4 separate regions of the Homo sapiens genome follow, and all the other regions are linked to region 1. The links come from fine-mapping of genetic effects on gene expression. A gene starts in region 1. Each other region holds a variant in brackets. All regions are shown on one strand. Distances are between the middles of the regions. Region 1 holds the start of ANKRD17-DT (ANKRD17 divergent transcript). Region 2 has its middle 38 kb from the start of CXCL8. Region 3 holds the start of LOC107986287 (a long non-coding RNA gene). Region 4 overlaps ANKRD17 (ankyrin repeat domain 17).

The links. PIP is the estimated chance that this variant, and not a neighbour inherited with it, causes the effect.
Region 2: its variant is the best candidate, but not a certain one, in a credible set for the expression of ANKRD17-DT in non-classical monocytes (Schmiedel 2018, PIP 0.77).
Region 3: its variant is the best candidate, but not a certain one, in a credible set for the expression of ANKRD17-DT in whole blood (TOPMed, PIP 0.59).
Region 4: its variant is the best candidate, but not a certain one, in a credible set for the expression of ANKRD17-DT in whole blood (TOPMed, PIP 0.54).

What each region holds. Positions count from the first base shown.
Region 1 is chr4:73,254,623-73,262,439 of GRCh38, reverse strand. It overlaps ANKRD17-DT (ANKRD17 divergent transcript), which reads right to left and starts at 3,274. Exons shown (of 5, transcript NR_187399.1): 1 at 3,032-3,274. It overlaps ANKRD17 (ankyrin repeat domain 17), which reads left to right and starts at 3,642. Exons shown (of 34, transcript NM_032217.5): 1 at 3,642-4,164. The coding sequence starts at 3,772. RefSeq lists enhancers at 3,121-3,390, 2,993-3,589, 5,990-6,490 and a silencer at 3,551-3,950.
Region 2 is chr4:73,774,939-73,782,755 of GRCh38, reverse strand. No RefSeq gene overlaps it. Among named protein-coding and RNA genes, the nearest start is that of CXCL8, 38 kb to the right of the region's middle. The variant G/TTG (reference allele first, on the strand shown) is at 3,105.
Region 3 is chr4:73,530,381-73,538,197 of GRCh38, reverse strand. LOC107986287 (a long non-coding RNA gene) reads right to left here and starts at 7,332. Exons shown (of 2, transcript XR_001741722.2): 1 at 5,125-7,332; 2 at 1-4,306. RefSeq lists enhancers at 58-107, 1,869-1,918. The variant ACAAT/T (reference allele first, on the strand shown) is at 4,819.
Region 4 is chr4:73,080,813-73,088,629 of GRCh38, reverse strand. It overlaps ANKRD17 (ankyrin repeat domain 17), which reads left to right. Exons shown (of 34, transcript NM_032217.5): 30 at 3,184-3,381. Among named protein-coding and RNA genes, the nearest start is that of COX18, 15 kb to the right of the region's middle. The variant C/T (reference allele first, on the strand shown) is at 4,046.

The DNA of each region.
Region 1 (7,817 bases):
AAATGTAGTCTTCTGATTGATTTGCTTCTGGTAACTACACCCAAAGTTCTTTCTTACATAATTATCAAGCCTAATTTACTGCTTTGCTGCCTTGCTCCTATGCCAGTTCCTTTAGACCTTTATCGTAGCTATCTTGAAGCCATCTAAAATAATGACTTTGAATGGAAAGACCAAACCCTTTTCCTGATCTTTGTTGCAGGACTTAATCTCAAGGGTAACTATACTCAAGACCTCTTCTAGTTTTTTTTTTTTTTTTATTAGAAGTCTTATAAAAGTCAACTTTTCCAACCCTTCCTGAGAAATATTCCTGTACACTCTCACTTCTGTGAAGTATTTCCTGAGTTTCTCTCTTTAGTAAAACCTTACTAAAAGTAAAATGTAAAATTCAACACAGTATTACTTTTGCTCTTTTCAATCATTTCCTCTGGAGCTAATCTAAACAGATAGGTGATCTGATTTTGAATTATTTCAGGTGACAGTTTTACTAATTACTTTGCCACTGCAAACATGGGCCTCCTTTTTCTAGCCTCCAAATCACATTCTCTACCACCTGCTGCATCATAAATAAGCTGATGTAACATATTTTAGGTTATTGTTTTAGCAGTACTCCACTTCTTGTACCAATTTCTGGACTAGCTATGGTCATTCTAGCTCCTATACATATAAATTCTCAAATCTCAATTTTTTCTCTTACAGTAAGTGCAAAAAGGGGTGTTTCTAATTGGGGTGGCTGTCTTCCAAGTACTGTTTCAGCCACTCATTCTTCTCTTTTCTGGCTTTGGCATCTCCAATACATAGTTTTGAAGGTCACCATGCTCAAAGGCATCAAGTTGACGAAGAAAGAGTAAGGGAGAATAGGAGGACTTCATTAACCCTAAAAATGAGCACATCATTTCCATTCATATTTAATTGGCTAGAAGTTAATCACGGCCAGGCTCGGTGGCTCACGCCCGTAATCCCAGCACTTTGAAAGCCGAGGTGGGGGAATCACCTGAGGTCGGGAGTTCGAGACCAGCCTGACCAACATGGAGAAACCGTGTCTCTACTAAAAATACAAAATTAGCCGGGTGTGATGGCACATGCCTGTAATCCCAGCTACTTGGGAGGCTGAGGCAGGAGAATCGCTTGAACACGGGAGGCGGAGGTTGCGGTGAGCTGAGATTGTGCCATTGCATTCCAGCCTGAGCAACAAGAGCTAAACTCTGTCTCAAAAAAAGAAGTTCATCACATGACTATAACCAACTACAAGGAAAGCTGTGAAATTTAGTTTAGCTGTGTGCCCGGGAAGAAGAAATAAGTTTCATGGGCTAGTCAGTCCCTGCCAGAGGTTCTAACGGGGGGAAAAAAAGATAAAAATAAAAGAAAGTGACTTTACATGCCTTGTCCATTTTAATAGTTTTGAACCTTATCCTACTAGTGAAACAGGATCATCATTTCACTATTATATTAAAGAACAAAAAACTCATTTTCTTCCAAACAATGAGATTACTTTAAAGAGAGCATTTTTGGTAGCACAGCACGATAGACACAGAGACTAGACTGCAGAGGGCTGACAAGTCAATTTCAGAAAACAAAAAAGACACTGATTGTAGACACTTTTTTTTTGAGATGGAGTCTCGCTCTGTCGCCCAAGCTAGAGTGCAGTAGCAGGATCTCAGCTCACTGCAAACTCCGCCTCGCAGGTTCAAGCGATTCTCCTGCTTCAGCCTCCTGAGTATAGAATACTTTTTAAAGAAAGAAAGTTTGCTTGTGAAGGAAATAATTGAAAGCTACAGAAGAATTAGCTAAGGAACCAGAATTTGTAGAAGGTTGACAACAGAAAAGATAATAAATGCATGAGAAAGAGGGGTATTGGAACTAGAATATGTATGAAGAGTTTATCTCATATATGAACAGGGAGTCTCTCATTCGTTGATACTGGAGAAAAGGCAATCTCAGGAAATTTCTAGCACTTGGAAAATTGTGAAGTCTAAGTTAAAAGTCATATAATAAAATGGGCTGGGATTTAAAGATTGCGAAAAGTATTCAAGTGGAAAGGGAGAAAAAGATGCTGAAGAATATACAAAGTAGGAGGGAGGGATGCAGCTGAAATTATAAAATCTAAATCAGTAGTGGTGAGATACACAATGCAGTGCTCTGTTCTACACTGGAACTCAGCAACGACTGTAGGAGAGGAATAGGCAGATGGTTACCACTCCGTATATATATTTACTATAGCACTTATTACACTGTAAAGCCCCTGGAAACAAGAGACTTTGATTCCACAAATTATGCGCACAGTAGGCACATGATGAATTTTTGTTTGAATGAATTGATTTAGTCATTGCCAATTCTGCCTTGGTACTCTGTAGAGTACTGGCAACTGCCCACATTTCATATGGTATGCCAATGCTAAAAAGAAAAAAAATGCTAAAAAAAAAAAAAATCCAGGCATATTCAGCTAAACTAAGCAGTCTTAAAATGGCAACTATGTCAGCTGAGACATACTTTTAATCTTGTGCCAGTACATCTGTCTTTGATGTTTGCTTCATTTTCCGTATGCCACTATACTCCTACTAGACCAGAAAGGGATAATTCTGAGTTCAATGGGCTCCACTATCATTTCAAAAGTCCTGAAACTTCTTCAGACACCTAAAAATGAACCCACAACTCCCATAACAGCATTCCTTCCGAGAGAAGTATACAGACAACAATCACTATTTATGCTTGCTTCCAAGCTGAATCGAAGAGGGCCGGAAGAGCTAAATCAGGGTCATTCAGTGAATCGTCTACAAAGTCTGGCACAGACCACGCATCCTTCCCGTGTCTTCCTCCCCTTGGAAACTTGAGGTGTAAGTAATGATCTTAGACATCTCCTAATCGACTGCCTTCATATTACACACGTGTAAACTCAGGTAGAGGATGTCTATGAGCCGAGCTTAAACTCAGGTAAAGAAGGCTCTTTTCCCAACACGACGCCATCTCTCATGATCCAAAGCTCTATCTCTCGATTTGGCGGTGGAAAAAAATGACCAGGAATAAAACTACGTACAGCAGTCCAGAACGAGGCCCCACCTCCCGGATCTGGCGGACCGGCCTCCCGTCAGCAAAGTGTCTGGACCGCGCTTCCGCACCTCACACTGCCCGGGGCCGGCTCCTCTCCAGCCTCCCCGTACTCCCCACACGCCGCAGCACTGCGCGCCCGCGGGGCCCCAGACCCGGCCCTTGAAATCTCACTTTCGCCTTTCGGCCACCCGCGCGCCACGGCTCAGGCGACGGCTGATGGCGTCACTGCACTTCCGCCTGCGGCTGCGTTCTAATCACAAGCCAGGAAGGAAGAAGGGAGGGCTGCAGGGCTGTGTGTGCGGGAAATAGCGAGGAAAGAGAAGAAATCCGGGAGCTCGCGGGCGCTCTGGTTGCAATCGCGCCCCCCTCATCTGTCCCCGCCGTTCCCCTTCGGAAGCTGCCCCAGGCACACTTCCCCGCTTCTTTCCAGTCTCCTCTCCTCTGGTTCTCCCGACACCCGGTCTCCCTGTTACGCCTCACCCTCCTTCCCTTGCTCCCTCCCTCTCCCTCCCTCCCTCCCTCCCATCGTCAGGCTCCCCGCCCTTAGTATCGCGAGACGAGGTGAGAGCTGGCGGAGCGGCGGCGGCGGCGGCGGCAGTAGAGGTGACCGAGGCGGTGGCGGCGGAGGCGGCACCGATTGCTGTGTCGGCCCCAGTGCGGCCGAAGTCGCGGTAGAGCGTAGCCCCACGCCCCTCCCCCGTCCGCGCCCTCCCTCTTTCCCTGGGGATGGAGAAGGCGACGGTTCCGGTGGCGGCGGCGACGGCTGCAGAAGGAGAAGGGAGCCCCCCGGCGGTGGCGGCTGTGGCGGGCCCCCCCGCGGCGGCGGAGGTCGGCGGCGGCGTTGGCGGCAGCAGCAGAGCTCGCTCGGCCTCGTCTCCTCGTGGGATGGTGCGAGTCTGCGACCTGCTCCTGAAGAAGAAGCCGCCGCAGCAGCAGCACCACAAGGCCAAGCGTAACCGGACTTGCCGACCCCCCAGCAGCAGCGAAAGCAGCAGCGACAGCGACAACAGCGGCGGCGGTGGAGGCGGCGGTGGAGGCGGAGGTGGCGGCGGCGGCACCAGCAGTAACAACAGCGAGGAAGAAGAGGACGACGACGACGAGGAAGAGGAGGTTTCTGAGGCAAGGGCCTGGTTTCAAAGGAAGGAGGGAGGAAGGGACTGTAAGGGATAGGGGCCGAAGGTGGGAGGGGATTTGGAGTGGGACAGATTCCAGTGGGTTGATCTCTTAGGGGCCAGGCTTTCGACTGCCCCCTTTCTTCCCTCGGCCTAAATCGTGAGGTGTGGGAATGTGGGGGAGGGTAGCTGACACGTGGGGGTGGGAGGACCACGGAGTTCACAGAGTTGGTGAACAGCCTGTTATCATGGGATGGCTCACTTGGTTAAGGATGGAGGGAATTGGTTAGATTCCCTGTTTGCACGCCGGGGGGTGGGGGGGTGGTCTGCCTGGGGCCAGTAGGGCCACCTTAGTCTGAGGCGGGATCGGGATCAAAGCGGGAGGAGTAAAATAATGGGTAAATGAGTCTCTTGGGGACCAACTAGGAGGTTGATCAACTTCTCCCAGTTGTGAGGTGGAGGGGAGCAGTTTGAGGGGGGACGTAAGGTTGTAATGGACTCAGAGCTAAGTGTTTGTGTATGTGAGGGACACGTGAGAAGCTGTACTTTTCCATACTGTTCTGCAGGGTTTTTCGTAACTATCCTGGCTGCTGAAGTAACTTCATTTCCTCGATCTCCCAGGGATTTTCGATGAACTGATGCTGTATTTGTATAAATTTATCAGTAACTTTAAATAATTACAAATGACCATATACATTTGTAAGTGGATGAAAAATATATTTGATCCTTACACGTACATACATACATGCCTTCGAATGTTTCCTTAGTGAGTTAGAATTAAGCTAGGACCTGTTGTCCCGTAATATGGGACAGCCAAAGGGTAGGCTTTGGAGCCAGGCCTGGTTGTGGTGAGTTGGAATAGGAAGGCCTCTCGGTTTGTCCTAGTGATCTGGTTTCATAATAACTTTATAATTTTTCCTGGGTCCACAGACAGGCGGCGTTGCAGGACCTTATTCCTCACAGAAGCCCTTACAACCCAAAGGCTCAGTAAAACATACCATACTGACAACCAACTGAGAGTTAGCTTTACTAGTTATTAGCTGTTTTACCACTCTCTTGTCTCCTTCCTGAAATAGAATCTAGAAAAATCTTTATTTGGAGAGGGAAATCTTTATCAGCAGAGGGAAAACAGCTTTAAAGGCTGATTTTAAACTTAGTTCTAAGAGGAGACCAAGTGATTCATCTAAAAGTACCACTTACTATTTATTCTCTTCCACAAACATGGAACTTATTTTGATGCAAGTCTGGTTTTCCGAAAATTGGAATTATTGAATCCTGGTCTCTGTTGAAATAGAGAAGTACCTTTTAAAGGATTTGACACATGTCTATTTGTAGAAGACCAGATTCTCTTTTATCTCAGACTGGATGAAGTTGTATAGGTAGAGATATTAAGTGCTGAAGTATGTATGACAAAAATATGCCAGTCCTTGTTTTTATTCCCTTTTAGCCTGTTGGATTCTGAGAATAGGTTTGTATTGATAGACTTATATTGGCCTACTTGGATGTTTAGGATAGTGTGTTGCTCTGGCGGCATTTGAAACAAGGAAGAGAAAGATGTAATGGGGTCCTTATCCCTAATAAAATTTGTTATGGTACTTAGAATCATTCAATTGTATGATTCTTCTCAAAGGTGAGAAACATTTTACAGGTAATTCAGCCCTTTATTTTAAAAAGGAGGAAAACAAGGTTTAGAGGAAAGTGGTTGTGGTGGGTAGTAGCAAAAGTACAAATCAAAGTTTTCTAATGTCTCAGACCTGTACACTTTTTAATAATAATTTATTTCCTTTTATCACCCTCCTGATATCATTCAGAAAAATAGTTACTGAATAGCAAGGTAACACAATCATGCAGCTATAGGCAAAATACCATTACTTAAAATTTTAAATTCTCGTGAAACTATTAAGCTCTGGTTTAGAGCAAGGTTATGATAGTTGAATGCAGTACTTACTGGGATATTCTGCTGCAAACTTAACATACCTAGGTAGTTTTGTCCATTGGAATGCGGCCTAATAAGCAGAACTTTTAGTAATTCCTTAAATCATGAAGAATGGCTGTAAGTTTGTAGGTATGTTTATTTTGTGGGTCAGGTTTGTTTTCCTTTTGTAATATAGGAATGGTTATGTTGACTTTCACCAACTATGGTAGTATTTCTATGTTTTTAACATACCTTATCCTGTCTTTTACATGGTGTTAAACAATGGGTTTGTCATTTATGAAGATGAGTCAGGAGAAATACGTGTAAGAAAGTGTGCCCATTGGCCGGGCGTGGTAGCTCACGCCTGTAATCCCAGCACTTTGGGAGACCGAGGCGGGCGGATCACCTGAGGTCAGGAGTTTGAGACCAGCCTGGCCAACATGGTGAAACCCCATCTCTACTAAAAATACAAAAAAATTAGCCGAGTGTGGTGGCAGATGCCTGTAATCTCAGCTACTTGGGAGGCTGAGGCAGGAGAATTGCTTGAACCCGGGAGGTGGAGGTTGCAGTGAGCTGAGATTGCACCATTGCAGTCCAGCCTGGGCAACAAGAACGAGACTCTGTCTCAAAAAAAAAAAAGTGTACCCATTTAAAAAATCTATACAGATGAGGGATGAGCAGACAAAAAGGAGTACAGATTGTCTCTGCCCCATCTTCATCTTTTGATCAAAGTAAAGACAAATAAAACTGTAAGCTAAATGGGTGAGTTGTGTAATGTTTTTCTCTTAATTACCATTTTACTGACATGTCAGCAGAAGCCTAACTTTCTGGAGCTAGGAAGTCTTGTGGCTAAAATCACAGTGTTGTCTTTTCTCTAATTCATTCTGTTATAGGCTACACAATAAAAAAAAGTAGATAAAATGATCTTTAAAATTATCCTTCCAGTAAAAATCATCAAAAGATTAAAAAGGAATGTGAAAGGTTATGGTTTTGTGGTATTTAACCTGAAAGGATAACTTTAATTTAACAAAAATACATAGCTTTGCTATAAAGAAATGCTATCTGAATAATCTCTGTATCTGCCAAAAGAGGAAAAATGGAAGGAAACGAGAATCAATTCAAATAAGAGCTTCATTTAATTGTTGAACAATAAGAATATAATTTCTAGACATTGGAGTAGGTTATTGAGAATAGGATTTTACTTTAAAGTATTTCAGAATAGGGTAATCACGTCTTAGATAATTTGCATAACTTCGGGTATACCTGGAAACAAATAAGACCAAGAGCTACTTGCCTCCCTCTCCCCATCTATTTGACACAAAATCTTACATTTAAAATTGAAAATGCATAATTTTCTTGGTTTTCAGTGAGTGACTGACCAATATGGAAAATACAAATATATTTTCTAACATAAAAGCCATGATGCTCTTTCAAATTAGTGGACAAAATTAATTAAATTGCTTTTGACTATTACAAGAAAAAAATCTTATAATTTCAAGAGTTGATACTTTATTTTAGAAATAACATTGCATTCTATTGAATGCATTTTTGAATATGACTGAATGATCTTAGTATTTTTTCTTTCTTTTTTTTTTTTTGGAGACGGAGTTTCGCTCTTGTTGCCCAGGCTGGAGTGCAACAGTCTGATCTCGGCTCACTGCAACTTCCACCTCCCGGGTTCAAATGATTTTCCTGCCTCAGCTTCCCGAGTAGCTGGAATTACAGGCATCCGCCACCAGGCCTGG
Region 2 (7,817 bases), 520 kb before region 1:
AGAATACACCACACCATTGCCAGGCTCAGTGGCTCACGCCTGTAATCCCAGCACTTTGGGAGGCTGGGCAGATCACCTGAGCTCAGGAGTTTGAGAGCAGCCTGGTAAACATGGAGAAACCCCGTCTCTCCTAAATATACAAAATTAGCCTGGTGTGGTTTTGGGCACCTGTAATCCCAGCTACTTGGGAGACTGAGGCAGGAGAATTGCTTGAATCCAGGAGGCAGAGGCCGCAGTGAGCCGAGATTGTGCCACTGCGCTTCAGCCTGGGCGACAGAGCGAGACTCCAACTCAAACAAACAAAAATAAAATACATCACACCAACTTAATCTGTCGGAAAAAAGAAAACAAAAACATAATTCTGCCTTTCTTGGGGTAAAAATTTCATAGAAGACAAAAATGACAACATGCTTATAGATAAAAGCGTTGAAAGAGTTCAAATTAAAATACTGTATTCTCTTAATGCTCAATTTAAAATGAAACATAATGCAACAGAATATACTAAGTATGTTTCTAAGAGAATTCATTAGCAGATCTATACCATTAAAATATTAATAAGAATGTATGTTTCCACTGAATTAATTAATGTATTCCTATGGTACAACCACAAGAGATGCACATACCTCAATGGCTATTGTCAAAATGTAAATATGAAAACATCTGCATACATCTTTCCCTTTGTATTTGCTTCTGCCCTTCTGATGCCAACCTAATGAACAAATCCTTACACACACTACTCAGAGGCAGTTTAATAATTCTATGTCCAACACGTATCTTTTCTATCAATTATAACAAAAAAAATTTACAAATTGGTTAATTCACTAGCTCTACTTTTTTATCATACATTGTTACCCCAAGACATTTATAAAGCTTAGATGTTGCAAAATAATTAAATTTGTTCACAATACACTTAGGTGCTTTACTAACAATGCTCATATAGATCTACGGTTATTATCTGATATGGTTTGGCTCTGTGCCCCACCAAAATCTTACCTTGAATTGTAATCCCCATAATCTCCACATGTCAAGTGCAGGACCAGGTGGGGGTAATTGAATCATGGGAGCTGTTTCCCCCATGCTGTTCTCCTGATAATGAATGAGTCTCACAAGATCTGATGGTTTTATAATTGTCTGGCATTCCCCCTCCTTAAACTTCTTGCTGCTGCCCTGTGAAGTAAGTGCCTTGCTTCCCCTTCACCTTCCACCATGATTGTAAATTTCCTGAAGCATTCCCAGCCATGCTGAACTGTGAGTCAATTAAACCTCTTTCCTTTATAAATTACACAGTCGTCGGTATGGTTTTATTAGCAGCATGAGAACCGACTAATACATCATCTAAAACCCTCTTCTGTATGTAGAGATACTAACAAACAGCCCTTCCCTTCACTTTTCCTCTTTTCCCTTTTCCACTATCCCAGTGACTAAATATAGGACTACATCTAGTTCCAAGAGTTGGATTAACAAAAGTCACTCCCAGAAGACAGGCCTTCCCAAAAACCAGTGAGAAGACATTTATGTAGGAACTGTTTTACTACCTCTACTTTTAACATACTTTGGGGATTAGGACTTATTTATCCTTTAATACATAACAGTACTAACTAAAAGGCACATATACAACAATGGTTAGAACATCCGACCTAATCAAACTTACAGGCACGGAACACTTCTGCATGCATACTTTCTCCTCCCCTGACTTGCTGCCACCCAATAAACAGTCAGCATACTCTCCAAACATCAAGCTTAACAATTGCATTCCCAAGCACAACCACTCCTAGGAATTAACCAAAAAACTACCTCAGGGTGTTACTTTAGCCCTCTAGTTTTAAACTATGTTGTGCAATTTTAAGCATGTGAAAAGACTAGATATTTCAAATAGGACTTAAGTTTTCCACCATAGACACAGTAGCATTAAATAAGTGGTGCACATAACACAGGTTATATTTGAAAGTGTCTTCTAAATAAGAACATTCTGGCCTAGAACCCTTCCCCTTCCTACCTCTATCAACACAGTTGACAGGTATAAGCATTTGTAATGCTTAGACAAGATTTAACAATTTCACTTCTTTAAGTGTTTTTAAGAATAGTCTTTCTTATGAATTTTAAAACAAAATGTTCTCAATTTATTAGTTTACTAACCTCTGCTTTTGTCATACACTGTCAAACTCTTTAACATTTAGAAAGACTAGATGTTGTAAATTAGGATACGTTTGCCCATTTATATATACTATATACACAGCAAAGTAAAAGAAAATGTAGATACAAGGAACAGTGGTCAATTGTGCCTCACCATAAACACACTGGTGTAAAGGCCTTTGCACTTTCTTCTCCTCCTTCCTCCCTGTACCAGCACAAATAATGTGTACTGCTCAGAGGAGTGGTTTGATCACTTTCCAAGGGACAATATTTTATATCAAAAGGCTATCTATAAAATGTGGAAATTTACTACCTCTACTTTTAACATATTTATGTACTTCTAAATATCTAGAAAGACTAGCTGTTTCAAATAAAGACTTAAGTTTGTTTACTATATACACAGTATTGTTGAATAAACTACACACATGTAACAACTGTTATATCTGAAAGTGTTTTCTAAATAGGAACGTTCTGGTCTAGAATCCTTTATTTCTTTCAACTCCTCTCTACGAACAACCTGGTAAATATGGGCACATGTGTCAAAGCTGATGCTATCATTTCACTTCCTGAAGTCTTTTTCAAAATACAATCTTTGTATACATCTTAACATAAAATGTACAAAATGTGTTAGTTTACTAACTCTCCTTTTGTCATACATTGACAATCTCTAATATCTAGTGACTAGATATTATAAAATTAGGATTCATTTGTCCAATATATACAGTATATACAGTATAGTTAAGTTAAATAAAATGCACTGTCAAGGGCATTTGGGTATAAAGGACAATGGATAAGCTGACATTTTCTAGTACACACTAGCAAAATGCCTTTTGCAATTTCTTCCCTCCCATCTCCCTCAACCCAATGAACAAGTATAGAAAGTACACTGTTCACTGTTCAGAGGTGGATTAACAATTCTACTTCCAAGCACAGTATTTCTCGTCAGTTTTTTGGTTTTTTTTTTTTTTTTT[G/TTG]ATGGAATTTCACTCTTGTTGCCTAGGCTGGAGTATAATGACGCGATCTTGGCTCACTGCAACCTCCACTTCCCGGGTTCAAGAGATTCTCTTGCCTAAGCCTCCCGAGTAGCTGGGATTACAGGCATGCGCTACCACACTGGGCTAATTTTGTATTTTTAGTAGAGACAGGGTTTCTCCATGTTGATCAGGCTGGTCTCAAACTCTCAACCGCCTGACCTCAGGTGATCCGCCCACCTTGGCCTCCCAAAGTGCTGGGATTACAGGCATGAGCCACCATGCCCGGCCTCCCATCAGTTTTTAATAGCTATTTATAAGAAGTGTTATTCTACTACTTCTACGTTTAAATGCATCAAGCACTTCTAAATATGTAGAAAGACTGGAAATTTCATATAACTTTTCTGCTATGTTAAAATTGCACATATATAATAATGGTTATAATCTGAGGTATCTTCTAAATATGACCATTTTGGCCTTGAACCATTCTCTCCTCCCTTCCTTCTCTCTGCCTTCAATCCAGTGGACCAGTACAGTATGTGTAATGTTAGAGATGTCTGAACAAATCTGTATTCAAAAGTCATTTACAGAAGACAAGCTTTCCTGTGAATTTCAACACAGTATATAAAATGTGCTAATTTGGCTGGGCACAGTGGTTCACACCTGTAATCCCACCATTTTGGGAGGGTGAGGTGGGTGGGTCACCTGAGGTCAGGAGTTAGAGACCAGCCTGACCAACATGGTGAAACCCTGTCTCTACTAAATACAAAAAAAAAAAAAAAAAAAAATCAAATTAGTTGGGCGTGGTGGCAGGTGCCTGTAATCCCAATTACTTGGGAGGCTGAGACGTGAGAATCCCTTGAACCCAGAAGGCAAAGGTTGTAGTGAGCCGAGATTGAGCCATTGCACTCCAGCCTGGGCGACAGAGAGAGATTCTGTCTCAAAAAAAAAAAAAAAAAAAGTGCTAATTTCACTAAGTTTAGTACTTTTTAAATGTATTCCATAGGTTTTGATAAATTGCATTTCCATTTTCATGTGTTTCAAAAAAACTTTAGTTTCCTTCTCAATTTCTTAACTCACTTTGTCAGTTTCTTTTAAAATTATCTATACAGGTTCATGACCCAGTAATATCAATTCTAGGTATTTAATCCAAGATAAATAAAAGCATATATGTCCAAAAAAGTATTGGACATAAATATTCATAGCAACTTCAGTAACAAAATAAAAAACTAAGGACAATGAAAGTAGGAAAGATTGTGGTATAACCCCATAGTATGAAATACTACTCAGAGACTAAAAGGAATGAGCTCCTGCAAAAACATGAATAAATTTCACAAATATTATGCTGAGTGAAAGTCAGACAATGAGAGTGCCTAGTGCATTATTCTATTTCTATAAAATTCTATAGTGATAAAATTGGATCAGTGGTTATCTGGGACTGGTAGGGGGCAGAGTGACCGACTAAAAATGGGCAAGAGGGAACTTTGGGAGCATAATGTAAATATTCTATATCTTGGTTGTGGCAGTGGCTACATGAGTTGATATCTTTATCAAAACTCATCAAACATGACACTTCAAAAGGATATGTTTTTACTTTGTAGAAGGTATACTTGGATCTTTTTTATATCCTTATTCAGATAGAATACCAGTATAGCAGCTCCTAGGATTTGTCACAAATGGAAAATGACATGTCATCTTCATTTCAAAATTACAGTTCTTAAATCTGGGGAGGAAAGCCAACACCCTTTTGGACCATGAATACTGCCCAGAGTCCATCAGCTACTCCGTTTGGAATTTCAGCAGTTTCACAGACACAGACTCCTGCAGGCAATGCTGCAGCATCCTGAGTTGATTCATTCACTCAGTGAGCCATAAAATATGAGACAATTTCTCACACTTTGCTTCATCATTTGCTGTTTTTCAGGCCAAGATGACAACGAGCCCAGCTGAAGCTGACATCCCAGCAAATTGCATGACAAATTGCAAAGACGACTAACCCACAACCTACTCTTCTGGAAAATACAATTTAAATAAAATAATTTTAAGTGATTTTCACCTGTTTTCAAAGTACATGATACAGTTTATAAGTATTAAATTTAAAAAAAGACTAAAATGTACTTAGTGACTTTTCATCATTATTGAAATAAAATTTTATCAATTTAAAATATAGAGAAATGAAAATATGTTAATTATTTTATGGCTTTTTCCCCTTAATCTTAAAATACGATTCAGAGGTAAAGTTGTATTTGTTTTGGCTCAACATGCATTATTTACTTCAAATTAAGTATATCAAAAAGCAAAAGTGCATGCTTTTAATATTTCTCTAGTAACTTAAAGCAGATTATCAAAATTACTGTATTTATAATCTTTTGTTTATTTTACAATGATTTATGAGATTAATTAACTTAAAATCAACTGTATCCACCTTCTGGAGGCTTTATGTAAAACAAATTAAATAGACATTTTAGGCATTGAACCATAATTTTCAGTAAGCATTTCTTTGGTTTACTAATGTTTCAAATAATACAGATTATACTTTTTTTAACCTCTGAAAAAGATCATACATTTTTGTGTTTAATAAAACTGCCATGGTAAGTGCTAAGGAACATTTATTCAGTGACAGTAAAGGTATTGAAGATAAGTATGTAAGATAGGATCCATCATCTTTATATATGGAGACAAAGCTTTTGCTTCTCCACCCAAAAGTGCACACTTTGACACAATTATACCTTCAAAAAATATCCATTTTATAAAATATAAATGTATTAGGTAAGCCAAAAATAATAAATTAACATGCAGTGTACCATCAGTAAGCAATAGGTAGCTGGCTTTCTTTGGCTTATAAACATTGAGATAGCCACACAAAGTAAGTTTAAGAACAATTTTGAGACCAAGGAAAAGCAGTGCATTAAGTATTAAGCATTTATCCAGGGACAGCAACATGCATGTTTTCAGAATGTTTCTACTCAGCTCCAAAGACACCTGCACCCTGTGGTAAGCAGGACTGGGATCATTGCAAGGCCCACATTGCGGACACCATGAAGGATCACAGACTCAGTGACCTTTTTGGCACTTCTCCAAAAGCTGTGTCAACATCAAAATGTTTTGGCTTTTCCCTTCATCTCTGCCAGAGAAAATAATAACTTCCTTTTAGAACATCTAGTTCAGAATGTAGGTTAATGGAATGCTTTATCTAAACCAGCCAAATTTTCTTTTTTCAGAATGAAACCGCAGAAGTGAATATGGTTTGGAGTTACTAATCTTCATAACAAGGAAGAAGGAAGTTTGGCAAATAAAAGTTCAAAGGGATTTTTGATGAAGAAATGATTTAAATCCCCTTATTTTCCCCTGCCAAAAAAAAAATTCCACACATATTACCCTTTTAGACCTCAATTATAAAGCATTTTATTCAAAAAAGTAAAATATATGTGCATATAACCATTACCTATCTACCCACCTCTGAGATTAGCTCTATTAATATTTGATTATAATTGATTCCAATCTTTTTTAATTAAAAAATACATAGACTCTAAAGTCCCATTCGCCAGTTTTCTCTCTTCACTATTCAAATCCTGTGATGATAGTATCATTCTCTTTAGTGTTCTGAACTTTTACCATAGATTCATGTTTCTCTATATAGTATTTAGTGCTTAACATCTACGTGAATGACATTGTACTGGATGTAGCATTTTGTATTCTTTTTTACTCAGAAGTATGTTTAAAGGTTTACCCTTGTTTAACCAGTTAGATTGAGTAGTTTCATTTTAACTCTATCATTGCACTGTTTATGAATTTTACTCCTGAGGTTCAATAGTTTTTGCTATTACCAACACTGCTTCACAAGCATCCTTATAGCAATTTCTTATGTACATGGTTGAAGATTTCTCTAGTGCAGACGCAGAAGGGATAATGCTGGGGTAAGTTCTGCATATCTTCAGCTTTCACTAGATATTGCCAATTTCCAAAGTTATGTGCATTTATATTTACCCCAGCCATGTCTGAATTTCCATTTTCCCATATCCTCACCAAAATTCAGTGTTACCAGATTTACCAGTTGTTGACCATCTGATGGATATGCAATGCTATCTCATAGTGGTTTAAGTTTGATTTTTTTTGATAACTAATGAAACTAAGTATCTATTAAGTTTCTGTGAATTGCCTATTCATATTCTTGTCCATTTTTCTATTGGAGTCTGGGATTCTTTAACTGATGAGTAGCGGTCATATTTTAGATACCTGTATATTCCAAATACTTATATATTCTAAATACCTACTGCAGATGAATGAAATTTTCACTGTGTTAAGATGAATGTTAGACTGTTTAGATGACACTTTGAATTCCACTGAATCTCAATAGAAATGTTTTACAATTTATTTTACATCTATCCGGAGTGTCAAGCCTTACTGCTCAATATTATATACATGTTCTCTTATTTCAATATACTTTCATGTATCTTTTTACTTATTTATCTCATAGAAAGGCAAGGTAGAATAATGTTTGACAGGAAAAATCAGACTTTGTACCAGACTGACACTTTCTAGGTTTGAATCCCAGCTCTGTAGCTTCCTAGCCATATAATAATGAGTACATTATATAAGTTCTCTTCACTTCAGCATGTTTATCTAACATAAAAAATAATAGTAATTACCTCATAGAGTTACAATAAAGGTAGAACACTTAGAACAATGCCTGGCACAGAATAAGCACCCAGTGTT
Region 3 (7,817 bases), 280 kb before region 1:
AATCATAGGCAAAGCCCCAAACTAAATGTTCAGGTGTGAGGGAGAGGTCTCTATGGGATTGCAGGAGGGCAGTCAGAGCCTGCTTTGCACCCTGACCTCTGGGCATTGTCTGGTATCAGAGGAATTGGCCTGGAAAGTAGTGTGAAGGCACCCAAAGTTAGGTTGCTGTCTATCTCATCAGAGAGAGCTAGGTTAATTCTCAGCTGACTTTTTTCCTTGGTCTCTGACATTTTTAAGTTTGGATGTAAACTCTTAGCAACTCTCAGCATCCGGAATGAACTAAAACCATCAAGCACAAATGTGAACACTATCTTACAGGCATCCCTGTCATGGAAGTTACTACCTCCTAACTTCTCATGTAAATCATAATGATTTTTTTACATGATAATTGCTTTTTACATACCACTCTTTGCAAAATCTGCTTCTGAAAAATAGAGATAATCAGTGTTAAACTATCATTGCAATAATTTATCTTAAGATTGCAAAAACATATTCTCATATAGTATAATGTAACTGTTTTCCTAAACCCAAAGCTTTATTTAGTTACTGAGTTTGCAAATATTGGAAGTCAAGTTTTGCTAAAAGGGAAACTGCCATGTATTTTGTGGAGAAAAAGTGGGACAGCAAGACTGGCCTTCAATTTTCTGTGTTATAAACTCATTTGTGGCCTTAAATGAAATACTTTACAAACACAAGGCAAATTATTTATCAAGCCAGAAAGAGAACCTTAGAGCTATTTTATCAAGGTAAGTTTGATTGGTCAGTGTGCATGTGTATGTATTGGTTATTTCAATAAAATGGGCTTTTTACATAAATGGCACAGATACAGAGATATAGACGTAGGTATAGAAATATAGATACATATTAAGAAGCCATGATTTAATAAAAGCATATACTTTTTATTTAGTAAAATATTTAGTATTTAGTAATAGTAATAGTAATAGATACATATTAAGAAGCCATGATTTAATAAAAGCATATACTTTTTATTTAGTAAAATATTAGTATTTAGTAAAATACTCCATGAATATAAATTGAAGTGAATTAAATGGATTCTCGAGAGAAAGACAAATTCAGAGTTCTTGAACCATGAATATAAGATTCCAGTGGGAAGGTACCAATAACCTTGTAGGCTTAGTTGTTTAGCAAGAGCGCTGGTTATCAGCTTAATTAGTCAGACCTAGTCCACCTTATCCTAACGAGCAGTGGCTGTTATAGGGAAAATTGTTATTGTTTTTGCAAACAGTTGGCCTGAATTTCACACTTAGCCCTGTCCTTACTGACTGTGTGACATCAGGCAAGTCACTTGAACCTCTTGAAACTCAATACTCTACCATCTATAAAATGTACTTAGTGACTCAGGCTGTTGTAATCAAATAGGACACTGGTTGTAAAGCTGCTTTGTAAACTCTAAATGTCCATTCTCAATCCCAGCACTTTGGGAGGCCGAGGCGGGCGGATCACGAGGTCAGGAGATGGAGACCATCCTGGCTAACGCGGTGAAACCCCATCTCTACTAAAAATACAAAAAAATTATCCGGGAGTGGTGGCAGGCACCTGTAGACTCAGCTACTCTGGAGGCTGAGGCAGGAGAATGGCATGAACCCAGGAGGCAGAGCTTGCAGTGAGCCGAGATTGCGCCACTGTACTCCAGCCTGGGTGACAGAGCGAGACTCCATCTCAAAAAAAAAAAAAAAAAGTCATTCTCCTGTAAGGTGTTATTATCATAATGACTCTTGTGGAGGCCTAACAGTGATGCCATCAGACAGTGCTTACCTGCAGGAGGCTAAATCACTCTCACTTATCCTTCTTTATGGGAAAGAAAGATGCTAGGCATACCTGCTTGAGCCCACTCAGGACAAGAGATGTTTTTGCCCTTCATTCTTCCATTTCTCCCCTCCACTCTAATAGTCTGTGCTGTCTTGCTATCTGCTACTATGCCAAGCAAACAGCTACATTCACTGTAAAGAAGAGATTGCAGAAGCTTCATGAAACACAGAATCCATAAGTCAGTGACTCATCCATAGAGTTGCTATAGTATGGTGATGTGGCCTGTGGTTTAGACGGAAATTTTATTTCTTGTCTAGTGTTTGCAGTTAGCAAAAACATGCACAATCATTTACGAAAGCATGGAACTACTAATAGCACTAGAATATTGCCTATTTTTATAATCATTTGTGAGAAAGGGGGTTTTTGCTTTTTTTTTATTTTTAAGAAAATTGTCCCACAGCTATAGCATTCCAAAGGGTTTTCTAATTTGTAGCACTTTCTCAATCCATTTTTATATACTATATCCACTCTTAAAATCACTGGAACTGCCAACTTTGGATATCTTTTTGAATATTCATAAGGAAACCTGTATCATATGAAACACATTAAAAGGTAAACAATAAAAGTCTGAGGTCATGAAGTTTTCCACAAAAGCCAATTATGACTATTAAATTTTAACTGACCTTAAAGCATTTGGAAACCTGGAAAGCTAGAAGAGAGGTTTTATTGCCTACATTTTAAGATAAGAAAATCAAATCAATACATGATTTTTTTTGTTTGTTTGTTTTTGAGACAGGGTCTCACAATGTTGCCTAGGCTGGAATGTAGTGGTGCGATCACCCCTCACTGCAATCTTTACCTCCTGGGCTTAAGAGGTTCTCCCGTCTCAGCCTCCCAAGTAGCTGGGACTACAGGCATGGGCTACCACACCCAGTTAATTTTTTAATTTCTTGTAGAGACAGGATGTCACTACGTTGCTCAGGTTGCTTTTGAACTCCTGGCCTCAAACAGTCCTTCTGCCTCAACCTCCCAAAGTGCTGGGATTACAGGCATAAGCCACTGTATCTGGCCAATTACATGATCTTTCTAAAGTCACACAGTAATGAGTGGCAGATTTAGAACTTGAGCCCGAAACATCCTGATTAACAACGGGTAGTTTCTGGCTCAGAGACTCTATTTACTTTTACTAAAAATAATTTCAAGTGTTTGGTGAGAATACACTTTTCCTAATAATCTTTAAGACTAAATTTTATATTAGTAAGTATGACCATTTTTTCAAAAAAAGTGCTGGCTGCCTGTCCCAAATAAACTTTTAAGTGAACCATCCATACATAATCTAAACATTCTTCTATGTCACAAGAAAGAGAAATTCGAACTCTAGAATATTTTCAAAGGAACAGAATTATAGAAGGGATCTTTGAAGTTATCTTCCAACCACCTTAATTTACAGTTGTAACACAAAAGCCTGGGTAAATCAAATGACTTGACCTCCATTCCACAGCTATGCACTCAAAACTAGGACTGGAACTCACATTTCCCAACTCACAGTCCAATGTGCTTTCCACTAGGAAGTTGTGCCTGTCAACATTTTACTACCAAATGCAAGTTTAGACATTTATAATAAGTGAGTTCAGATGGCAGCATTTACCTTTATTAACCAGTATCAAATATAATTTTGGAAATATAACTAAGATTATTCTACAAAGAACTTTGAGGAAAACTGAGATTCTGTTGTTCTGTTTAGCTCTAAATAACACTCCCTAAAGGGACTTTGGAAATATTTCCATTTCCAGACAATTTCCACAGCAATAATGTATTAGTGTATATTGAAATCAGTTTGCCTAGTTAATATACACTTCTGAATGCACACCAGAGATGTTAATACCCCAACTCTCTAATCTTTAAATGTTTTACCAAGGGTCTGGCAGTAGATATTAAGTTAATTAAAACAGAAGAGCTGACAAAGTATATGAATCTAAAGCTCTTGCTTATTTCTAAGTCCCTTAAAACAAAACCTGCATACACTTGACTTCATCTTTTTTTTTTAAATTCCTATGTTAGTTGTGAACATTTAAATACCAAGACATTTCTAGCTTCTCTCAAAATGCAGGAGACCCAACTACCTGAAGTCTGAGTTCCCATATGGCAATGTTTCTGGTGCTGAACAGTCACTGCCACCTCTGGACTCTACAAAGCATCTCCTCCTGCCCACAGTTCCCACTCCATCCCTGGCTGGCCCTTGTGGTCATTCGAGTTTGCAACCCTTCCCAAGGAATTCATAAATACATATTCTATCACTAAGAGTTTACAGAAAAACTGTATTATGCTTGTAGGAATTCTGGCTTGTAAGTGAATTGTTTGCATACAAATTGGTCTTCTGTAGAACTGCTGAGTGGCAGGGATGAAAGGTCAGGTGTGTCAGCATTTTCTGAGTTAATATGCCTTCCCCTTGGAATGGCACTGGCTGTTCACAGGATTGAGTGACCTTGCTGGATAGGATAGCCTGTTTAGAGCAGGGGTAGTTTATAAGCTGGCTCTATAAAACATAAAAAGGAGAAGTTATTTTTGAAGATTTCATTCTGAGATTATTTTTTATTGTTCTTAACAGAAAAACAGAGAAAAAGTTGGTAACTTATATTGCTTTATCCCTGGCAAACTGAGAGAACAAAGAGATCATTTATAGTGACTCACTCTAACAAAGAAAGCTTCTCTGCTTGACCATACTCAAGTGTCACAAGATTTTCAAACATCTCTTAAAGAACATAAGAGGAGACAGACTGTATTATTGTTCCCGTGTTTAGCCCAACAAAGTACAAATGGAGAGTTTTATTGTTTTTCTATTGTTGTTCTTATTTTAAGATCACAGTTTGGGAAGTATTTCATCTCTGAACCACATCACTATTTGTTAATTTACTATACACGTTGTATATTATTACTACTACACTTCCGTATGTACTAATAAACATATATACACAAATAATTGTGTATGGGTGTGAATAAGCTAGTCTCTACATTTAGAAACTCACACTTGGAGAGTGAAACAATTAA[ACAAT/T]ACCAAGAGTGAAACAAACAATACCAATTATAATACATTATAAATAGAAGTTGTAAGAAAAGTACACATATAATGGTTTAGAAGAAAGAAGAGGGACTGGCTCCAGACTGGATGGAGGTCACCATGAAGATCTTGAACAATTTGAATCTTAAAGGACAAATAGAAGTTAGCTTGAAACAGCTGAAGAAAAAGAAGAGCATTTAGAACTATTCATCTTTATATATAAAGAGTCTTAGAGGTATAAAAACATGACATTTGGGAAATGACATACAAGGTATTTAGAGGCTATTGAGAAAAATTACCTTTAAAATGGTGAGGTTTGAACCAAATCAATGTCCAGATAGACTTAAGCACTTCTGAAAGGTAGAACTGATAATTTTAATAAACAACAATTAGTTTAGAAACAAAGTAGAGTGAAGAAAAATAATCTAGAATAATATAGGAGACTGGGTTGATGGTAGCACAATTTATTAAAATTGATATTCAGGAAAAAAGAACAGGTTTGAGGAGCGTGGCTAAAAAGCAAATCCAAATAGTTTGCTGTGTGAATATAGAGCTCAAGGATATTTAAGACTTCCGTGTAGCATCTACACATCTCTAAGCAGTCATGGATATAAACTAAGGGTTCAGGAAAGAAGAATTGGATGAAGATCTAAATCTAAGAGTGATACGTTGAAGCTACATTATGGCATCAGGTTAAGGCTGATAAGGCTGAGTGTGTGCAGCAATTAAGTAACTAGATGCACATGTATCCCTGAACTTAAAATGAAAGTTAAATTTAAAAACAAAAGAAGTTGCTTAGATAAGCAATGAAATATAAGGTTGACCAGCCTTCAAAATTTATCCATCCTCACTTTCCTAGCTAAATCTATTATCATAAAGACAAAAAGTATAAGATGCTTGGGTTTCCCTTGCTTCTGTTGACAATTGAGCAACATCCCTGAAATTTCTCTGGAAATAGGGAGTCTGGGCCTGCCCTGTAAGGAGAACTGAGCTTCCAGGAAGCCCAGTGTTGTCCTAAGTTGGAGAAAGTGATGTTAGGTAAATGTATGTCCTCAGAGGTCCACTTGTATAGAAACACAGTCTGGGCCAGGGAAGAAGCACACTGGGCAACAATCTCTTCCACCCCCAGCCCCACTTTTTCAGTTTCACGTGATGTTGGAGCAAAATTGTTCCTAGCTTCCAAGAGAAAAAAATACCTTTTCTCCTCCAGCCTTTACAATGCAGAAAAATTCAGTAAGTGCCTGAATCTGAACATCCAAAATCTTTTGTTCTCTGAGAAAGAGACTAAAGGATTTGAATGGATGGAATAAGTTGAAGTAGGAGATGACAAGGGCAGTTGAGGATTATGCCTTTTCATCTACATCTACGGCACTATGTGCCCTATTAGAACAGGCAAGTAACATAAGTGGAGAGAAAGGAGCCAGGTTTCCATTAACAGACTTTGTAAAATGAGAGATAAATGATTTTTCAAACAGGTTTAATCAAAAGGGGTGATTAACAACAGCAACAAAGTCTACAAATCTAGATATAACTTACACTGCTTTTTCTACTTCATAAGTAAATTTAATTACAGCATCTGTAAGAAACTTAAACAAATATATAAGAAAAAACAAACAAACAACCCCATCAAAAAGTGGGCAAAAGATATGAACAAGCACTTTTCAAAATAATTTCACATAAATTATGATATCTCAAAGATAATTCTCTAATATATTTTTGTTGCATTCTAGCTGTGATTAGAAAAAAACAGTTTATTAAAGAAGTCTTGCAGTAACAGAAAAAGTTAATCTCATTATTAATAAAGAAGGAAACAAAGATAAAAATTGTGTTTCTCTTCGAAATTAAAAAGTCTTCTACTGAGTTGTTTAAAAGAGGCCAAAATGCAGAAGTATAGCATGGTGTGTTTTATAAAATCTTTCTTTCCCAAAGATCACTTGTTCCGGAATCTCAAGCATTTAGAACATAAGTGAGCACAAGAAAGTAAGCAATCAAAAGTTCAGAGAGCCACCAGAACAAATTTCAATAATGTCTTAGAGTTGTATTTTGCTTTCATCCAAGTTACTAACCGTGTTATTTGGAACATATCTCATACTCATACTCATACTCCTAATCTTAAGTGTATGTTCCAGTTTTGTAATATATATTAGTGAACTCCCTCATCCCCTCAAATATTCATATCTTTAACTTAGGATTACTGCCAACTCTCTTACCAAGAAATGTTTCTAAATAAATAAAAACATAATTATGGAAAAAGAAGTACAGGCATGTTTTGTTAGGGTTGCAAAATTTTGGAAATAAATAAAATGGTTCAACAGAAGGGAAGGGTGACAGTTAAATAAATAATGTTCATTATTCTTGAGAAGATATATACTTCTAGTACAAAGTAGGTATGTCTAAATCTCTAATCAAAATTGTATATTCAGTGTGATCATATCATGTATAAAATAAAATCTGTGACTAGAAAAAAATAAGACAAGAAAATATACCAAAATTGGTATCTCTTTGTGGTAAGGATATAAGTCATATTTTAAAATTTCAGGGCCTGGTACGGTGGCTCAAGCCTGTAATCCCAGCACTTTGGGAGGTCGAGGCAGGTGGATTACTTGAGGTCAGGAGTTCCAGACCAGTCTGGCCAACTTGGTGAAACCCTGTCTGTGCTAAAAATACAAAAAAAAAAAAAAAAAAACAAAAATACCTGGGCATTGTGGTGCATGCCTGTAATCCCAACTACTCAGGAGGCTGAGGCAGGAGAATCACTTGAACCAGGGAGGCAGAGGTTGCAGTGAGCCAAGATCATGTCACTGCACTCCAGCCTGGACGATAGAGCCAGACTCTGTCTCAAAAAGAAATAAATAAATAAACGAAAGTTTAGAACAACTCCATATTTTTATTAAAAACATTATATTGATCACATATTGTTTTTACTATGAGTAACTGTACCTTACAGTGAGGTTTTCAAAAACAAGTTAGAAAATGCATGCAAAGGTGATAT
Region 4 (7,817 bases), 170 kb after region 1:
TAATTAGATTTTAGATCATTATGTGCCAGTGCGTAGGAAATGCTTTAAGTTTGATTTTTATAGTAGTTGGAATTTAATACTTTACCTTTCCAAAAATGTGATAATCTAGGTGTGGGATTCAGAAAGGCTAAAATTAAGCTTTAGAGAACAAAAAAATAAATTCCTATTTTTTGAAAAGGTATAGAAGAAAGACCTCTGTAAGAAAGGTGAGGTTTTTAGGGAGTGTATAGTTGATGAGAGCCAAAATTAGCATTGAAGTTTAACTTACAAGTCAATTACCTAATTCAGGTCATTTTGAGTTAAAGATACTCCTTTTATTACATAGGAAGTATGTCCTTTTATTTTCTCCTAAACCTCTCTCAGATCCTAATTTTCACTTCTCTCTACTTCTTCCTAATTCATTTTGTGTTCCATATTTTTCTTCCTTTGTTTAACTTTTCTTATGTAAATAATTTGATTATTTGTATTTTAGACTCAGATCTGTTTTTATAGTTTGTATTTTGAAAAGTTATTTAAGTCACATAAAGATCTAAGGACAGAATAAGCAGCATAGTAAATACTTGGTATTTCCACATTTATTAATATATTCTCTGCTTGTTAACATCTTTTCAAACTCTCTCCCTCACTCCCCTCCCTTCCTCTCTCCCCTTTTCCTTCTTCCCTCCTTTTTTTTCCTCTCTTTTGCTGCTTCCTTTTCTTCCCCCTCTCTTGTCTTGTCTTACCTGTCTCTCCCCTTCTTCATCCTTCTTTCCTCCTTTTCCCCCTTTCTATCCTATCTCTATTTTCTTTTCTTCCCCATCTTTTGTCAAATCATGAGAAGATAACTTTCAAACATGATACTTTACCCCTAAATACTTTGATATGGATCTTCACAATGTTTGCCTTCACAGCTATGCCACTATTACTGCACCCAATAAAATGAGGATGAATTTGATAATAACACCCAACATAAAATGCCATTTTCCCAAATATATTCTTTCTGACTATGTGTGTCTCTTTTCCTTGCCATTTGATCCAAGACTCAATCAAGATTCACACATTACTTTTGGTTGTTATGTGTCTTTGGTCTCCCTCTGTCTAAAGTATTCTACTGCCTTCCTCTGTAATTCTTGACATTGACTCTGTGGGCAAGTTTAATTCAGTGATTATGTCAATCCATGATTAGATTCAGATCAAATATTTCAGGAAGGAGCATCATATAGGTGATGTTTTGAACCTCACACTGCATTTTATCAATGACAGATTGGCTGGATGTGGTGGCTCACACTTGTAATCCCAACACTTTGGGAGACTGAGACAAGAGGCTCATTTGAGGCCAGAAATTTAAGACCTGCCTGGGCAACATTGTGAGACCTTGCCTCTACAAAAATAAATAAAAAAGCTGGGTGTGGTGGCATGTACCTGTAATCCCACCTACTTGGGAGGCTGAGGCAGGAGGATCACTTGAGCCCAGTAGATGGAGGCTGGGGTGAGCTATGAGCAACAGAGCAATCTCCTGTCTCCTTAAAAAAAAAGAAAAAATGATAAATTGTTCCAGTATTGGCTGTGGAAAGCATGGCCGTGTGGTTAGTATGTAATTATCAGATCTCTTCATTGTAGAATTGTATCTACAGCCCTTTTTTGCCCTGTAGTTTTATACAACTCTTTGGTCCTTAAACCTATTTAAAATCCTACAGATATATATATATATATATATATATATATATATATTTTTTTTTTTTTTTTTTTTTTTGAGATGGAGTCTCACTCGGACGCCCAGGCTGGAGTGCAGTGGCACAATCTAGGCTCACTGCAACCTCCGCCTCCCAGGTTCAAGCATAAAATCCAATATTGACATGTGTTCTATAAAAGCTAATAAAAGGTAAAACAAAAATATAGCTAGGTGTAATGGTGAACACCTGTAGCCCCAGATACTCAGGAGGCTGAGGCAAGAGGGTTGCTTGAGCCCAAGAGTTTGTGGCTACCGTGAGCTATGATCACATGCCACTGCATTCCACCCTGAGCAACAGAGAAAGCTGTCTCCTAAATTAAAAAAAAAAATCGTTGACAATTATTTTCTTTCTTTTTTTTCTGTATTTTTAACCCGTTAGACTAAAATCAGATAGGTTACTTGTGTAATAGTTTAGTGTGTAAACATTTGTAATACTTTTTTAATGAACATATTTCAAAAACAAATGTGTACCTGTAAGAGAGAAAAAGAAGAGGAAGAGTAAATGTTTTATCTTTATCCCTAAAAATAAACATTTAAAAAAAAATGTTATCTAAAAATCCCTAAAGGTAAACGTTTATTCTTCCTCTTCTTTTTCTCTCTCACAAATACACATACATTCGTTTTTGAAATAGGAACATCTGGAAGTTTCACTTTCTGTTTTATATATGGTTTTTGGTTTTGGATTTTTTAAATAAGTTTGCATTAATTTTATGATCAATAAAGGCAACAAAAGTCCACTTTGACAGAAAGCCCATGTAAAGGAAAACTAATGATCCTTTTTAACTAAAACATTAATGCCCACTAGTGCTGAAAGTACTAAAATCAAGAATTAAATTTGTTCCCAGTAAATTATAATTTGAATTTAAGAGTATAATGTGATAATTGTTTCTTTTATAATTATCTACATAGTTTAGTTTTTTGTGTGTGTGAGACAGGGTCTCACTCTGTCACTCAGGCTGGCATGCAGTGGTGCCATCACAGCTCATTGCAGCCTTAACCTCCTGGGCTCAAGCAATCCTCCCACCTCAGCCTCCCAAGTAACTGGAACTACAAACACGCACCACCAAACTTGGCTAATTTTTTTTTTTTTTTAATTTTTTGTAGAGGCAGTCTATCCTGGCCTTGAACTCTGGGTTCAAGCAGTCCTCTCACTTTGGCCCCCCAAAGTGAGATTCATGCCTGGGATTATAGGCATGAACCACCACACCCAGCCAGGAACTTTTTTTTTTTTTTTTTGAGGTGGGGTCTCGATGTGTTGCCCAGACCAGTCTTGAATGCCTGGCCATAAGCAGTCCTCCCACCTTGGCCTCCCAAAGTGCTGGGATTACAGATGTGGGCCACCACTCCCAGCCGGGATTTTTTTAATTATCTAAAATAGTTTTGAATATATTTAGGGCCTTTTAGAATTTTAAGGTATCTCTATTTCTTGCAGGAGTAACTATTATAAATTATGATGACCTTCTACATTATAGGTATTGTCAATATGGACTCGCCATATGGTTCTGTAACACCTTCTTCAACACATTTGGGAAACTTTGCTTCAAACATTTCAGGAGGTCAGATGTACGGACCTGGGGCACCCCTTGGAGGAGCACCCGCAGCTGCTAACTTTAACAGACAACATTTTTCCCCGCTTAGTTTGTTGACTCCGTGTTCATCAGCATCAAATGGTGAGTTTTATACACCGTAATTCCATAAGAATCTGCATATGTTTTCTTAAAAACAGCAGGTTTCAAACCTCATCATAATTTTAATACCATAAAAAGGTAATTTGTACTCTTAGAAGTCTGGAATTTCAAAAAAATTTCTAGGTATTTAAATGATTAGAATCAACCTAGGTTCTATCAAACCTAAAATATTGAAGTTTTTCTAAGAGGGATTTTTATTATTTTTTATTTTTATTAGAGACAGGCTCTCACTGTGTTGCCCTCGCTGGTTTCGTCAAACTCCTGGGCTGAAGCAGTCTTCCTGCCTTCCAAAGAGCTGGGATTACAGGTGTGAGCCACCACACCTGTCCTGAGGGATCATTTTTTGGGGGAAAAAAATTAATCCTTGTACCTGTTATTAATTTATGTTTACTTTTAGTTTTGAGAATACAGGTACCAAGGAGAAAGATTTCTACCCTTGAGTGAAAATTACATCCTTTTAGTCCACCTTTAAATCTCATCTAGGCTGGGCACAGTGGCATACACCTGTAATCCTAGCACTTTGGTAGGCCAAGGCGGGTGGATCACCTGAGGTCAGGAGTTCAAGACCAGCTCGGCCAACATGGCAAAACCCTGCCTCTACTAAAAATACAAAAATTAGCCAGGCGTTGTGGTGTGCACCTGTGAT[C/T]CCAGCTACTTGGGAGGCTGAGGCAGGAGAATTGCTTGAACCCAGGAGGCGGAGGTTGCAGTGAGCCGAGATCACACCACTGCACTCCAGCCTGGGCAACAGAGCAAGACTTCATCTCAAAAAAAAAAAAAAATCTCATCTGCATTAACAACACAACAGATTTCACATTATCACATGTGTTTTTTAACTACAGGCAGACTTTTGAAGCAGTGATTAGATTTTCTTTCTTTCTTTTTTTTATTTGAAATGGAGTCTCACTCTGTCACCCAGGCTGTAGTGCAATGGCTCAAGCGATTCTCCCACCTCAGCCTCCTGAATAAATGGGACTACAGGCATGTGCTACCACACCTGGCTAATTTTTGTATTTTTAGTAGAGACAGTTTCACTACATTGGCCAGGCTGGTCTCAAACTCCTGATCTCATGATCTGCCCACCTCGGCTTCCCAAACTGCTGGGATTACAGGTGTGAGCCACCAGGCCTAGATTTTCAAACTAATGAAGATCAGTCAGCAATAGAGAATTCAACTCAACTAAGAGAATTCTGTAGTAAGGTTGGATATGTTTGTTTTCCAGGTAAAGATGTGAAATTGCTTATCCCTTAAGGAAGTTATAGTAAGACTTCGGTTTTTTTTTTTTTGTTTTGTTTTTTTTTTTAACTATCAAATTTCTTCTAACTAGCAATACTGGAATAAATAACAGTTAACCTAATTAACTTAATGAAAGAGTAAAGAGTTATAATTATTTTAGAGATACATGTCAGAGTACATTGCCAGTTAAAGCATGAGGTAAATTGTAGCCTGCAATGAATTTATATATTCATAGTTTTTCTTGTGTTTGTCAAATAGTGGCAGTCATATAGAATATTAATTATCCTTGCACAGCTCCCAAAGTGCTGGAATTACAGGCGTGTACCACCACACCACCCAGGTTAGGTTTTTTAATACATGCTTTTGAATATAGTGCTATATTGTAAATACAGAGTATCATTGAGGGCATTACAATTGCTTTTATTGTTGCCACATTCCAGTAACTATTTTGTTACAAAAAATTTCAGACCCATAGAAAAGTTAAAGAATAGTTCAAGGAATATCCATATTTCCTTCGCCTAAATTTCCCAATTATTTTGTTATATTTATTTTCTCTCTCTACTGTTTTGCTGAACCATTTGTAAATAAGGTGCAGATATGACACTTCAGACCTAAAAACATGCATCACTTAAGAATAAGGATATTTTCTTATGCAACCATGATACCATTGTCAAATACCTAATAGGTTAACATGAATTCAGTAAGAATTAATCAGTCCATATTCAGATATCTTCAATTATTCCAAAACGTTTTTTATAGATGTTTCTTTCTTGAACCAGGAACTACCACTCAAGGCTCACATATTGCATTTGATTATGTCTCTCAGATTTTGTAATTAATAATTTTAAACTTTCAAGAATACCACAAGGATCCCTTGTATATTTTTCCCAGATTCACCAATTAAACTGCATTACTTCCTTTCCTCATCATATATTCCTCTGTGTGTGTGTAAAATTATTTTATTCCTGAACTATTTTACAGTTAGTTGTAGACGTCAAGCCCTTTTGCCCCTAAATAACTTAGTTTCCTAAATATAAGAATGTTCCCTTCAACAACTATGATGCAGTGTTTAAATTCAGCAAACTTTACATTTTATATTATTATCTAATATATGGTGCATATTTACATTTCATCAGTTATCTCAATAACTTTATTATTTTCTCTCATCCAAGATTCTAATTAGGACTGCAAGTTACACTTAATTCCCATATCTCTTTAGTCTCAAATAATCTAGAACTGTTCTCTGAGTCTTTCTTTAACTTTCAAAGAAAGATTCATTTTATGAAGACTACAAGCCAGTTGTTTGCTAGAATGCCTTTTATTTTTATTTCCTACTATTTCTTCCTGATTAAATTCAGGGTATGTTTAATAAACACTGAACTAAACTGTGAGAAATGTGCAGTGTAATTTTACTGTAGGAGCACTTTTTGTTCTTCTCCTTTCTTTTCATGTAATTTTACTGTAGAAGCACTTTTTGTTCTCTCCTCTCTCCTCTCCTTTTCTTCTCACGAGTTCTGTCTCTGTCACCCAGGCTGGAATGCAGCAGTGTGTGACCATAGCTTACTGCAGCCTCAATCAAACTCCTAGGCTCAAGCAGTCCTCTTGCCTCAGCCTCCCAAGTAGCTGGGACTACAGGCACTTGCCATAGCACCCAGCTAATGTTTTTATTTTATTTTTATGTATTTATTTTTTGTAAGATGAGGTCTTACCATGTTGCCCAGACTGGACTTGAACTCCTGATCTCCAGAGATCCTCCCACTTTAGCCTCCCAAAATGCAGAGATGCTGAGATTACAGATGTGAGCCACCACGCTTGGCCCCCCTTTTTTTTTTTTTTTTTTTAAATAAAAAGATAATGTATCTCTCTGTTGCCCAGGCTGGAATGTAGTGGCACAATCTTGGCTCACTGTAACCTCCACCTTCTGGGCTCAAGCAATCTTCCTGCCTCAGCTTCTCAAGTAGCTGGGACTACAGGTGTGCACCACCATGCTTGGCTAATTTGTTAAATTTTTTTTTGTAGAGATGAGGTTTTACCACGTTGCCCAGCCTGATCTCAAACTCCTGGCCTCAAGTGATCTGCCCACCTGGGCCTCCCAAAGTGTTGGGATTGCAGGTGTGAGCCACCACACCCAGTGGCCCCACTTTTTGAATTTGTAAATCACATTGCTCTTTCAATTTTAACTCAGGACTCTGTTATCATTTCTAAACTGTGGTGAAGTTACCGTGGTATCAGTGAAACTTAAATCCTTAGGCCACTTCATTTTATGGGGTACTTCCAAGTGCTGTACATGATTTTTTTATTTGTAATTTTTCATTCTTCTAAAAAAGGTTCCCAAAATTTTGTAAGTTTAAGGCCCCACAAAACCTAGATCTGCCCCATCCTCTGAAACCTGTTTCTCTAATATATAAGCTGATGTTTTTAAATAACATGGCTCTGAATTAAATTTTGCTTTTTTTCTAATTGAAGTAATTATAATAATTAGAGATGTGAAAATTATTTTAGTTAGGTTCTTTTCATGAAAAGGAATATAGGCCCATCCAGGGACTCTCATGGAAAATGATGTTTATATAAGGCTATGCAGAACCATTTTCCAAACCGTCCAGGACTTAGGGATAGCTATTCTCTCTCTCTCTCTCTCTTAGAGGATTTGTGGTCTCTCACTCATGGTCTGTTTCTTGTCAGTTTCTTGCATTCTGCTCTCTTTACACCTAAACTTCTTCATAATCTTACCTTGTATATGCACATCAGTGGTTCAACTTCATAATTAATTAAACCAGTTAACCCTTTAATTCCCCATTCTTTGATGAGGAATGTGATTGGCTCAGCTCATATGTTCAAGTCAGACCATTTCAGTCAGATTACTGACTAGCCTAAAATAAAACTTGGATGGGTGCCTATCCTTAATCCAATAGTTGTGCAGAGAGGGAGCAGAAAACAGGGTCATCTGATAAAAACTATGACTAGAGGGGTGGCAGAATCTGTGCAGAGAGTAAACTTCTTAAATGGCGCAGCTCAGCGGGCAAGCCTAGTAATTCTGTTTATTAAAATAGAATGTGTAGGAGGCTGAGGTGGGAGGATGGCTTGAGGCCAGGAGTTTGAGGCTGCAGTGCACTGTGATTGTGCCTGTGAATAGTCACTGTACTTCAGTGTGGGCATCATAGTGAGACCGTCTCATAAAAAACAAA